Homo sapiens: one gene and its partners. The protein of the gene in region 1 interacts with the protein of each later gene in a pairwise test. Each region holds a gene or a part of one and is shown on either strand. Other genes may lie near its edges.

Region 1 (3,829 bases):
ATGGTCCGGAGCATGGTGATGGCCGGACTGGGGCAGTCTTCCCCTGCGGGCTCTTAGGGAAGGTCCTGTGACAGCTACAGGTCTCCTGCAGCCTTTATGGAAGAGGGGAGGGAGTCTGCCCAGACGAAGGAAACTCACTATTAAAACGAAAAGTGCAAAGGGTTGCAAGTAGTAGGATGATATTTGGAAACATCTCCATGTCTGTATCACTGTTCACTTCTTATAAATCTCAATAACTCTACCTGGTTCCCAGAATGCCTTCCTGGTAAGCATCGCTTACTAGCTATTTATGTCTGGATTTATATCTAGCCATTAATTTCCCTTGAATTTAATGGCTAGGTATAAATCCAGATAAAAATAGATGCTCTACAGATCACTTAACCCTGTGTTTTTCAAACATCCGACATTTATTTGCCTATCACCTTGATGGTTTATGTCATATCTAAGGACTACCTGTACTATCATTTACTTCATCTTTTTCCTCTAGATCCACTCTTTTAAAATATTGAGATACTGCCAGGTATGGTGGGATGTGCCTGGAGTCTCAGTTACTTGGGAGGCTGAGGTGGGAGGATATCTTGAGCCCAGGAGTTTGAGTCCAGCCTGGACTACATAGCAAGACCCCTAACTCTCAAAAAATTTTTAAAACCAACATAGATATTGATATCATGTTTCAAAAAGTTATTTTATGTGGCATGCAAAAAAAGTATGACCTTTGTTCTAGGTGCTACCCCAAAATATTTCATGTGGCACAGTGTCACTTGGGCTGCCCACTGAGAAACACTGATGTAGACCAACCTTCATCTCATAGACAAGAAATCCGAGCCTCTGAAGGTTAGGAGATTTGTTTGGGGTTGCACAGTTAGTGTCAAACTGGGATGAAATCCCACGCTTTTCAACTTGCCAGCTTATCCTCTACCATGTTCCCTTGCTCTGTGGTTCTAGAAGCACGCTCATTCTTTTGTTTGAGCTACAAACCCCTGATCAGAAAGATGCCTTCATCTGTGAAAATAAAATATTGACTTTCATGATTAGTTCTCTATTCAGGATTTCATATCATTAGTCAGCATTAAGTCACAGTACCTTGTCAAACTTCAAGTAATAAGAGTTTCTGGGGAGAATTTCATTTTCTTTGACGTGGCTTCTGTTGTGGTATCAACAATATCACTCATTTAAATTTTAAAATAGATTACCATCATGAAATCTATCAGGCCCTAAAAATTGTATACTCTTTGACTTAGTAACTCTACTACAAGGAACCCATCCTACAAAAGAAAAAAGGTCAGAGATGCAGCCAAAGACTTATACTCAAAATGATCAATTGCAGAATTATTTTTCTTAGTGAAAAAAGTCAAACATGTTAATGGTGGATTATTAAGCGGCTCTTAAAAATTATATTTTCAAATAATTTTAATGATACAGAAAATACTATTACTATAACGTTAAGTAAAAAAGGGAAATTAAACTGTGTTTTCAACTTTATCTCAATTGTCTAAATATAAATATATGGGCACATTTTTGAGAGAGTAGAGAGATACTCAAATGCCAGTTATTTATAATCAATGACTTCAGTTATCTTCTGTGTATTTCTAAATATTCAATAATGAGCTACTTTTGTAATTAAAGAAGTAAATAATTTTAAATGATTATCACTGAAATTCAATAGTCAGCCTCAGGTGTTGGGAGTACCCCAAACACTGAGGTACTCTGTTCTAAGCCCAGGGCTGGAAGAACCCTCTCACTACTACATATTAACGTGACCAAGGTCCTAAGTGAACCAAATTCTCAGTTAAGTTTTAACCAGTAAATGCATGCAATTACTTAAGATCCTTCATTTCTCTATATAAAGGAGGTATTTCTGAATACAAATTGACTTAGGATATGTATGGATAAGAATAAAAGACAAGCCATGGAAAATTAAAAAACATAGTGAGTGAAGTAAGTACTACAAAGAGAGAGAAACACACACACCCAAATCCCAAAACAAAAACAAACAAAACCAGGAATTTGCCAACAAATCAATAGTAAACTTTACTTAACAGTCAAAATCCTCTGACAGAGACACAAATCACAAGGAAAGATTAAATTTGTCCGGAGAGAGAAAAATCTTACCTTGGAGCCCATGTTGGTGTGAGGCACTCAGTGAGGTATTGGCAGCTGTTAGCAAGACAGCAGGGACACTGTTCTCTGAACGTGGATGTGCTGTTGGATTTATTGCCTCCTGTTATCTGAGGATTCTGTGTATGTGTGTGTGTGTGTGCCTTTGTCCACAAAGATTTAATTGCAACCTCCAACAGGGTTCATTCAGACCCTTAGCTCCCTGCGTCAAAGGCAGGAAGGCAGGGCTGGAGAGGATAAAGAGAGGGCAGATATTAGCCTAAGCAAAGAGGCACTGGACTGTACTGTTTTGCATCTGTGCTTATCTATCATCGAACTCTTTAACTCTTGCCTGGGTCTGAATACAAATTGGAAGCCAAGATGGAACCAGTGTGCAGTTCCTGTTCCTTGCTACTTAGTCAAAGTGGCTCCATGTACCCCAATTAGCTTCCTGGAAAGAAACAATGTATGTTGTTCTCAAGCCATAAAAACCCAACATCTGTGGCCTCTGTAAAGGCTTAGATTATGCACTGTGTCTTCACATCTCAATACTGGCTCAGTGCCTGATACATGGTAGCATCCAATAAATATTTCTTGCATGGATGACTGGATGGTTAACTACAGGAGAAAGTGCAGTTCCTTGTGGGATCTTGAGAGGCTCTAATGATCTATATTATTCTGACATTAAACCATTGGTGGCTCAAAGAACATAAGCAATTTATGAAAAAGCAAATACACTTTACGAGCAAGAGCAGTGCAGAGATTTCCTATTTGTGGAACTGGTGGGCCCCTCCTAATTGTGGGAATTAACTAGGGAACTTTCGATTTAACGCTAAAAAAAAAGAAAATAGTTTTTTAATTTTATTTTTTTTATTTTTGAGACAGAGTCTCGCTATGTCACCCAGGCTAGAGTGCAGTGGCATGATCTTGGCTCACTGCAACCTCCACCACCTGGGTTCAAGCAATCCTCTAATCTCAACCTCCTGAGTAGCTGGGATTACAGGTGCATGCCACCATGCTCAGCTAATTTTTGTATTTTCAGTAGAGACAGGGTTTCACCATGTTGGCCAGGCTGGTCTCGAAGTCCTGACCTCAAGTGATCCTCCTGCCTTGGCCTCTCAAAGTGCTGGAATTACAGACGCGAGCCACAGCGCGCGGCCTAGATGGAAACAGTTTTAAAATGTAAACCTAGAGCGAGAAATAGGGATAGGAAACAAAGACATCAGCAGAATGTATTCATCGCTATAGTTTGCTGCTGTAACAAATTACTACAATCTGGTGGCTTAAAACAACACGTATTTAGTATCTTGCAGTTCTGGAGGTCAGAAGTCCAAAATACATCACACCGGGTTAAAATGAATGTGTCGGCAGGGCTGCATTCCTTCTGGAGATTCTGGGGGATGGTTGTTTCCTTGCCTTTTCCAGCTTCCAGAGATCTCCTGCATTTCTTGGCTCCTAGCCACTTTTACCCTCAAAGCTAGCAGCAATGCATATTCAACTCTCCCTCTGACTCTGAGCCTTCTGCCTCCCTCTTTCACTTGTAAGGACTCACGGGATGACCCTGGGCCCACCCAGATATTCCAAGATCACCTCCCCATCTCAAGATCCTTAATCATATCTGCAAAGTCCCTTTTACCATAGGGGACTACCAAGGCAACATACTCACAGGTTCCAGGATTAGGAGGTGGACATCTCTGGGGTGCCACTGTCCACTCCCTACAGGGAGCATGGC
Region 2 (3,729 bases), on another chromosome or scaffold:
TTTTTTTTTTGAGACAGAGTCTTATTCTGTCACTCAGGCACCCAGGCTGGAGTGCAGTGGCACGATCTTGGCTCACTGTAACTTCCACCTCCCAAATTCAAGTGATTCTTGTGCCTCAGCCTCCCGAGTAGCTAGGATTACTGGCATGTGCCACCACACCTGGCTAATTTTTCTTTTCTTTTCTTTTCTTTTTTTTTTTTTTTTTTGAGACGGAGTCTTGCTCTGTTGCCCAGGTTGGAGTGCAATGGTGCAATCTCAGCTCACTGCAACATCTGCCTCCCAGGTTCAATCGATTCTCCTGCCTCAGCCTCTTGAGTAGCTGGGATTACAGGCATGTGCCACCACACACAGCTAATTTTGTATTTTTAGTAGAGACACGGTTTCACCATGTTAGTCAGGCTGGTCTTGAACTCCTGACCTCGTGATCCACCCGCCTCAGCCTCCCAAAGTGCTGGAATTACAGGCGTGAGCCACCGTGCCTGGCCAATTTTTTGTATTTTTAGTAGAAACGGGGTTTCACCATGTTTCTCAGGCTGGTCTTGAACTCCTGACCTCAAGTGATATGCCCCCCTCAGCCTCCCAAAGTGCTGGGATTACAGGCATGAGCCACTGCACCCAGCCTTTTTTTTTTCCTTTTTCTTTTATTAATATTATTATTTTCTTCGAGACAAGGTCAGGCTCTATCACCCAGGCTGAAGTTCAGTGGTGCAATCTCGGCTCACTGCAACCTCTGCCTCCAGTGCTCAAGCGATCCTCCACCTCACCCTCCGGAGTAGCTGAGACTGCAGGCACGCACCACCACGGCCGACAAACTTTTGTATTTTTTCTAGAGATGGGGTTTTGCCACTTTGCCCAGGCTGGTCTCAAACTCGTAAGCTCAAGCAATCTGCCTGCCTCAACCTCCTAAAGTGCTGGGATTACAGGCGTGAGTCACCATGCCCAGCCCCTATTATTATTTTTTGAGATGGGGTCTCACCATCTTGCCCAGGCTGATCTTGAACTCATGGGCTATGGTGATCCTCCTGCTGCAGCCTCCCAAAATACTGGGATTACAGGCAGAAGCACTGCACCCAGGCTTTTTATCTTTTTTTGATACTGGGTCTTGCTTTGTCACCCAGGGTGGAGTATAGTAGTGTGATCACAGCTCACTGCAGCCTCAAATTCTTGGGCTCAAGTGATCCTCCTGACTCAGCCTCCCAGGTAGCTGGGACTACAGGCATGTGCCACCATGCCCAGCTAATTTTTTAAAATTTTTTGTAGCCACGGGGTCTTTCTATGTTGCCCAGGCTGGTCTTGAACTCCTGGCCTCAAGGGATTTTCCCACCTCGGCCTCCTAAAATATTGGGATTACAGGTGTGAGCCAACATGCCCAGCTAATTATTTTCCTTTTGTAGAGATGGGGTCTCCCTAAGTTGCCCTGCTAGTCTAAAACTCCTAACCTCAAGAGATCTTCCCACCTTGGCCTCCAGAGTAGCTGAGAGTGTAAGTGCACACCACCACTAATTTTTAAATTTTTTATAGAGATGGGCATCTGGCTTTGTTGCCCCGTCCTGGTCTTGAACCTTCTTGCTTCAAGCAATCTTCCTGCCTCAGCCTCCCAGTGTGCTAGGACTGCAGATGTTACAACCACTGGGCCTGGCCTCACTCAGTGTTTTCATCTCAGTTCCTCTCTCTCTTCCCCTTCAATTTTTCTTTTCTTTTCTTTCTTTCTTTTTCTTTTTTTAAAGACAGAATCTCACTCTGTCGCCCAGGCTGGAGTACAGTAGCAGGATCTCAGCTCATTGCAACCTCTGGCTTCTGGGTTTAAGCGATGCTCCTGCCTCAACTTCCCTAGTAGCTGGGATGACAGGCACATGCCACCACACCAGGTTAATTTTTTGTATTTTTAGTAGAGATGGGGTTTCACCATGTTGGCCAGGCTGGTCTCAAACTCCTGACCTCAAGGAATCCGCCTGCCTCAGCCTCCCAAAGTATGGGGATTACAGGCATGAGCCACCGCACCTGGCTTTCCTCTTTCAATTTATTTTTGTTTTTATTTTTATTGAGACAGAGTTTTGCTCTTGTCGCCCAGGCTGGAGTGCAGTGGCGCAATATCGGCTCTCTGCAACCTCTGCCTCCCGGGTTCACGTGATTCTCCTGCCTCAGCCTCCCGAGTAGCTGGGATTACAGGCACCCACCACCACGCACAGCTAAATTTTTGTATTTTTAGTAGAGACAAGGTTTCACCATGTTGGCCAGGCTGGTCTTGAACTCCTGGGCTCAGATGATCCACCTGCCTTGGCCTCCCAAAGTGCTGGGATTAAAGGAGTAAGCCACTGTGCCTGGGTTTTCCCTTTCAATTTCTTTCTTTTTTCTTTTTTCCTTTTTTTTTTTTTTTTTTTTTTGAGATCGAGTTTCGCTCTTTTTACACAGGCTAGAGTGCAATGGCATGATCTAGGCTTACTGCAACCTCCGCCTCCCGAGTTCAAGCAATTCTCCTGCCTCAGCCTCCCAAGTAGCTGGGATTAGAAGCATGTGCCACCACACCTGGTTAATTTGTATTTTTAGTAGAGATGGGGTTTCTTCATGCTGGTTAGGCTGGTCTTGAACTCCCTACCTCAGGTGATCCACCCACCTTGGCCTCCCAAAGTGCTGGGATTACAGGCGTGAGCCACCATGCCCAGCCTCAATTTCTTAATCAATATATATTTCCCCACTATCTTGTTCTCCCCCGATCTCTCTCTCAGGCTTTTGCTCCTCTCTGCCCCACTCCTAATCTTGGGGGTTCATGGATGGGGGTTCCTGCACTCAGGTCAAGGTTCACACCTGGCTCAGGGATTCCCTAGACCTTTGTCACATTTGGAATCTCAAGCTCCTGGAGAGGCAGGGTGACCTCAGAAGCTCTCTTCCACCCACGGCCATAGACAGAGGCAGCCAGGGAGCCCCGTGCCCCACAAGCCAGGGGCCAAATCCTTGGCCCTGCTGCTCCCAGCGGCAGAGCTCGAGACGCGTGCTGCACAACCACAGCCACTCACCAGCGTCCAGAGGACATAGATGGTGAAGAGGGCGATGGTGAGGGCAATGAGACCCACGGCCTCCAGCTGGCTGTGGAGCCGGAGGTGGTCCTGGGCCCCGCGCAGGCACAACCAGCCTGAGATGGCGGCCAGCGGTGTGATGAACAGGAAACACACCATGTCGCAGCACAGTGTCCGCTTCTCCGTCCGCGGCCCCGGGTCCTTCAGCCACTGCAGGGGAGAGGATAGGGGGCAGAGGAGAGGGGGCAGAGAAGGGGCTACTGAGGGGGAGGGGTAAGGACCTCCAGGCCTAGGCCTCCCTCTGTCCTTTCCTTCTTTCTTTTTTTTTTTTTTGAGACAGATTCTCACTCTGTTGCCCAGGATGGAGTGCAATGGTGTGATCTCGGCTCACTGCAACCTCGACCTTCTGGGTTTAAGCAATTCTCCTGTCTCAGCCACCGGAGTAGCTGGGATTACAGGCAAGCGCCACCATGCACGGCTAATTTTGTATGTATATATATTTTTTGAGACAGAGTCTCGCTCTGTCAGCCAGGCTGGAGTGCCGTGGCACGATCTCGGCTCACTGCAACCTCAACATCCCAGGTTCAAGCGATTCTCCCACCTCAGCCTCCCGAGTAGCTGGGATTATAGGCAAGCGCCACCATGCCCTGCTAATTTTGTATTTTTAGTAGAGATGGGGTTTCACCATGTTTGTCAGGCTGGTCTCGAACTTGTG
Region 3 (3,500 bases), on another chromosome or scaffold:
ATTTTCAAGCTCCCGGTTAATCCCCACCAAAGTTTCTACTGTTCGGCTACTTCAGGATGGCTAACATTTGGAGAGAAGAGGATCCCCCAGGTAGTCTGTACATAATTCAGAGAGAGGACATCAGAATTTTCCATGGTTCTATTTCAGGTATTAAGGTACCACAGTGAAGCATGTCATTTGACTGTGGTGGCAAAGGGACGGCACTGAGCATGCCTAACCTATTCCCTGGCATTTCAGTCCAATCAGCGCATGCTCGCAATGATCATCCATGGGTGAAAAGGAAGAGCTGAAAGACACATGTGCTGAGCAACATTTAATTTCTGCTTGTTAAACGGGTGATTAGGCGCCAGTGTGGCACCATCCAGACACTGGGAATTTGTGCCACTCCATCAGTTCTGCTGGCTCTGCTCATTCTGCTTTCCTGCAGTGGATGCCACTTCCCAAAGAACCATGCTCCAAAAAACAAAAGAGAACTGAAAAACAAAACGGGAAACTTTCAAGATAAAGCACCCCCCCACCCCGACAGGAAAGAGCTACATTGTAGAAAAGGATATTCATGTATGTTTAGAGATATAACTCCCAACACCGGAGCAGTCTGCTGCCACCAATTCCCTAAATCTTGAGGCTTGAGTCTAATTTTGATGCTAAAAGTAGAGCTTAGTGTTGGAAGAAAGATGATGCTTTAAAAAGTTTTCTTCTATTTGCTTGGAAACCCAGTGACCCTTTCCAAGCCAGATCCTAAAGCTACCTTTGCCCATCCTTCTCTCTTTCTCTTCTCCGTGACAGCACTGTGTTAAGCACTAGAGGAGAAAAGATAAGAGTGGATATGGAGGGACTTAAAGATCTGGGACCTGGAAAACCGTGGTAATTGAAATGTAAGGTTATACAGGAGATAATGGCAGGATATGAGGCAGGACAAATAAATCAGGGATAGATTGTGGCAATGCAGGGGGTTTCAATTTTGTTATTTGGGCAATAGGGGGCCAAAAAAAAAAAGTTTCTAAGTAGGGAAGTGACATAGTTAAAGGCGTGGTCAGAATTATAAATTTTCAAAGACCCCTGTGGCTGTGTATAGGATGAATTGGAAGGAGAAAAAGAAAAGAAGTGGAGAAAGCCATCATGTTACTGCTGCAGTTCAAATATGAAATGATCGGTCCTGAACACTGGGTATGGTAACAACAGGACAGAGATGAAAAATACTTCAGAGATAGAAAAGACAGGTCTTGCTGACTGATACTATGTGGAAGGTGAGTGGGGGGAATCTACAATCTACCTTGATGCTGAGGTTTCTATCTTGGGTGACTGGATGGATTTCTTAATTAATCCAACAAATATTGAGGACCCATGTGCCAGGTACTGGGGACAGTGATGAACAAGACAGACATGGTCCCAACTGTCAAGGAACCAGTCTACCAAGAGAAGCAACAGGGCAAACAAATACAGAAAATATTATTTATTTAATTATAATCTTAACTTGCCAGGCGAGGGTGTAATAAAGAATCTAACCTACTCTGCAGTCAGGGACAGTATAAATGATGGTGCCATTCCCTGAGACAGGAAAACATGAGGAGGATCTGGTTGTAGTGGGGGATGAGTATAGCTTGGAATGTAATGAATTTGAGGCAACTGTTGGTATACCTACCTGGGGATTTGCAAGACAGGGAAACTTGGAAAGAGGGGCTGGAGATAGAGTTAAATCCAGGGAAGACTAAGGAATATGGTGGAGAATAAGTTCCTAATGCATAGCCTTCCACTTGGGAGAATGAGCTAGGCCTTCCTGGAGACATCAACAGGACAATACCACATTCAGATGTCAGCGTTTGATGATACCACGAAGGTGAGGCTAAGGCAAGGGCTAACTGCCCAAGTCTACTGGCTCAAGAAAAGAGAAACATTGCCAACAAAATATCTGTGAAAAGTGGCTGGAGAAAGCCAGATGCTGTAATTTGCTGGCATGAAAGAACCTAAAGCCCTGATCAGCCTTTTAGTAACCATCAACTTGGGTTCTGAAACGCTAAATAAAGGTAGGGACAAACGGGCCCACAGAGCAAGCACTCAAGATTTTATATTCATAAATATATACTCTGTTTTTCTCTCCTCTTTCTAGCTGTCTGTTCCAAATCAATGTCAAGACTAGGGAAGAATATGAAGACTAGAAAATTCCCTTCTCAGGTAGGCATGGTGACTCATGCCTGTAATCCCAGCACTTTGGGAGGCTGAGGTGGGCAGATCACTTGAGGCCAGGAGTTAGAGGCCAGCCTGGCCAACATGGCAAAACCCCATCTCTACCAAAAATACAGAAAAATTAGCCAGGCATGATGATGCATTCCTGTAATCCCAGCTACTCGGGAGGCTGAGGTATGAGAATCACTTGAACCCGGGAGGTGGAGGTTGCAATGAGCCGAGATTGCACCACTGTCCTCCAGCTTGGGCAACAGAGTGAGACTCTGTCTGAAAAAAAAGAAAAAAAAAAATTCCTTCTCCTGCTGCCAACTTTTAATGGGTGGCCAGAAGCGAAGAGGTTGGGAATTCTTGGCACTTAGGCCAGAGGGAGAAAAGTAAGATGCTGTTGCCCTTTGTGCCAAAGTTGGTCCCTAATGTCACCATCAGCCAGCACTTCCTTACCTCTTGAAGATTGCCTCTACCACCTCTTGGCCTATGACCTGACTCCTGACCATTTTTGGCTCCCCATCTTGGGTGGCTGCACTATCGCATGGGCATTCTCTGTCCCTTTCCTTGCCTCAGCCCTGCAGCCAAACCTTCCAATGTCACCACAGTCTGATCTGGGATGTTCCAATGAGAAGTTCCCATAATCATGTTTCTCTCTTTAATGTAAAAGGGCCTTCTAGTCTGTGTGGCGTATGAGATGTAAAACTGGAGTATAGAATCTGGGAGGGTAAGGACTGATCTCCGTTGTTCACCAGCACAGAGTAGAACTTCAATGAATGAACAAGTAAAGATTTCCCAAGTAACCTGCCACATAAATCCAGGAAAGTTTTGATGCTATATGATTGGCCTAACAACTTGTTCAAATGAAGCTTTCTCCAAGTGTCTGCTGGGTGCTAGGGAGCTATATTGGTAAATAAAGCTCTGCCCTCAAGGAACTCTCAGTCTATGAAGTTACAGTGAATAAGCAAACTGCCATAATAGAAGAACATACGAGAGCTGTAGAAGAGCACAGAAAAGAAAATAAGTAATACTACCTGGAGAAGTCAAGAAAAACTTCAGCAAGGAGAGGGTATCTCAAGTGAGTCCTGAAAAATAAACAGGAAATTGCCAAGTAGACAAGGCTTGTGAAATGAACACTCTTGACAATGTGAGCGAGTGACAGGATAACTGCATACAAACCCTGTGTATCCAATCAGGAGGATTTAATGACAAAGGACTCTCCAGAAGCCCTCTCTGCATCATTAATTAAAGCCCTGATCACACTGCGATATGATTATCTGCTGATGGCCCTCCTCCGGACAGCCCCACCTGTCACTGCCCCTGGAAAGCTC

Evidence for each region.
Region 2: the proteins of SLC18A1 (region 1) and MARCHF2 interact in a two-hybrid assay, tested with the Homo sapiens proteins (one large-scale study listed by BioGRID).
Region 3: the proteins of SLC18A1 (region 1) and YIPF1 interact in a two-hybrid assay, tested with the Homo sapiens proteins (one large-scale study listed by BioGRID).

Annotation. Positions count from the first base shown.
Region 1 is NC_000008.11:20,180,951-20,184,779, forward strand, and holds the start of SLC18A1 (chromaffin granule amine transporter), read right to left. Parts: upstream 2,187-3,829; 5' UTR 2,113-2,186; intron 1,003-2,112; exon of another isoform or gene 799-1,002; intron 138-798; 5' UTR 15-137; coding exon 1-14.
Region 2 is NC_000019.10:8,430,153-8,433,881, reverse strand, and holds part of MARCHF2 (E3 ubiquitin-protein ligase MARCHF2), read right to left. Parts: intron 3,225-3,729; coding exon 3,015-3,224; intron 1-3,014. UniProt on the Homo sapiens protein: E3 ubiquitin-protein ligase that may mediate ubiquitination of TFRC and CD86, and promote their subsequent endocytosis and sorting to lysosomes via multivesicular bodies.
Region 3 is NC_000001.11:53,851,798-53,855,297, forward strand, and holds part of YIPF1 (protein YIPF1), read right to left. Parts: intron 3,255-3,500; exon of another isoform or gene 3,204-3,254; intron 474-3,203; 3' UTR 1-473.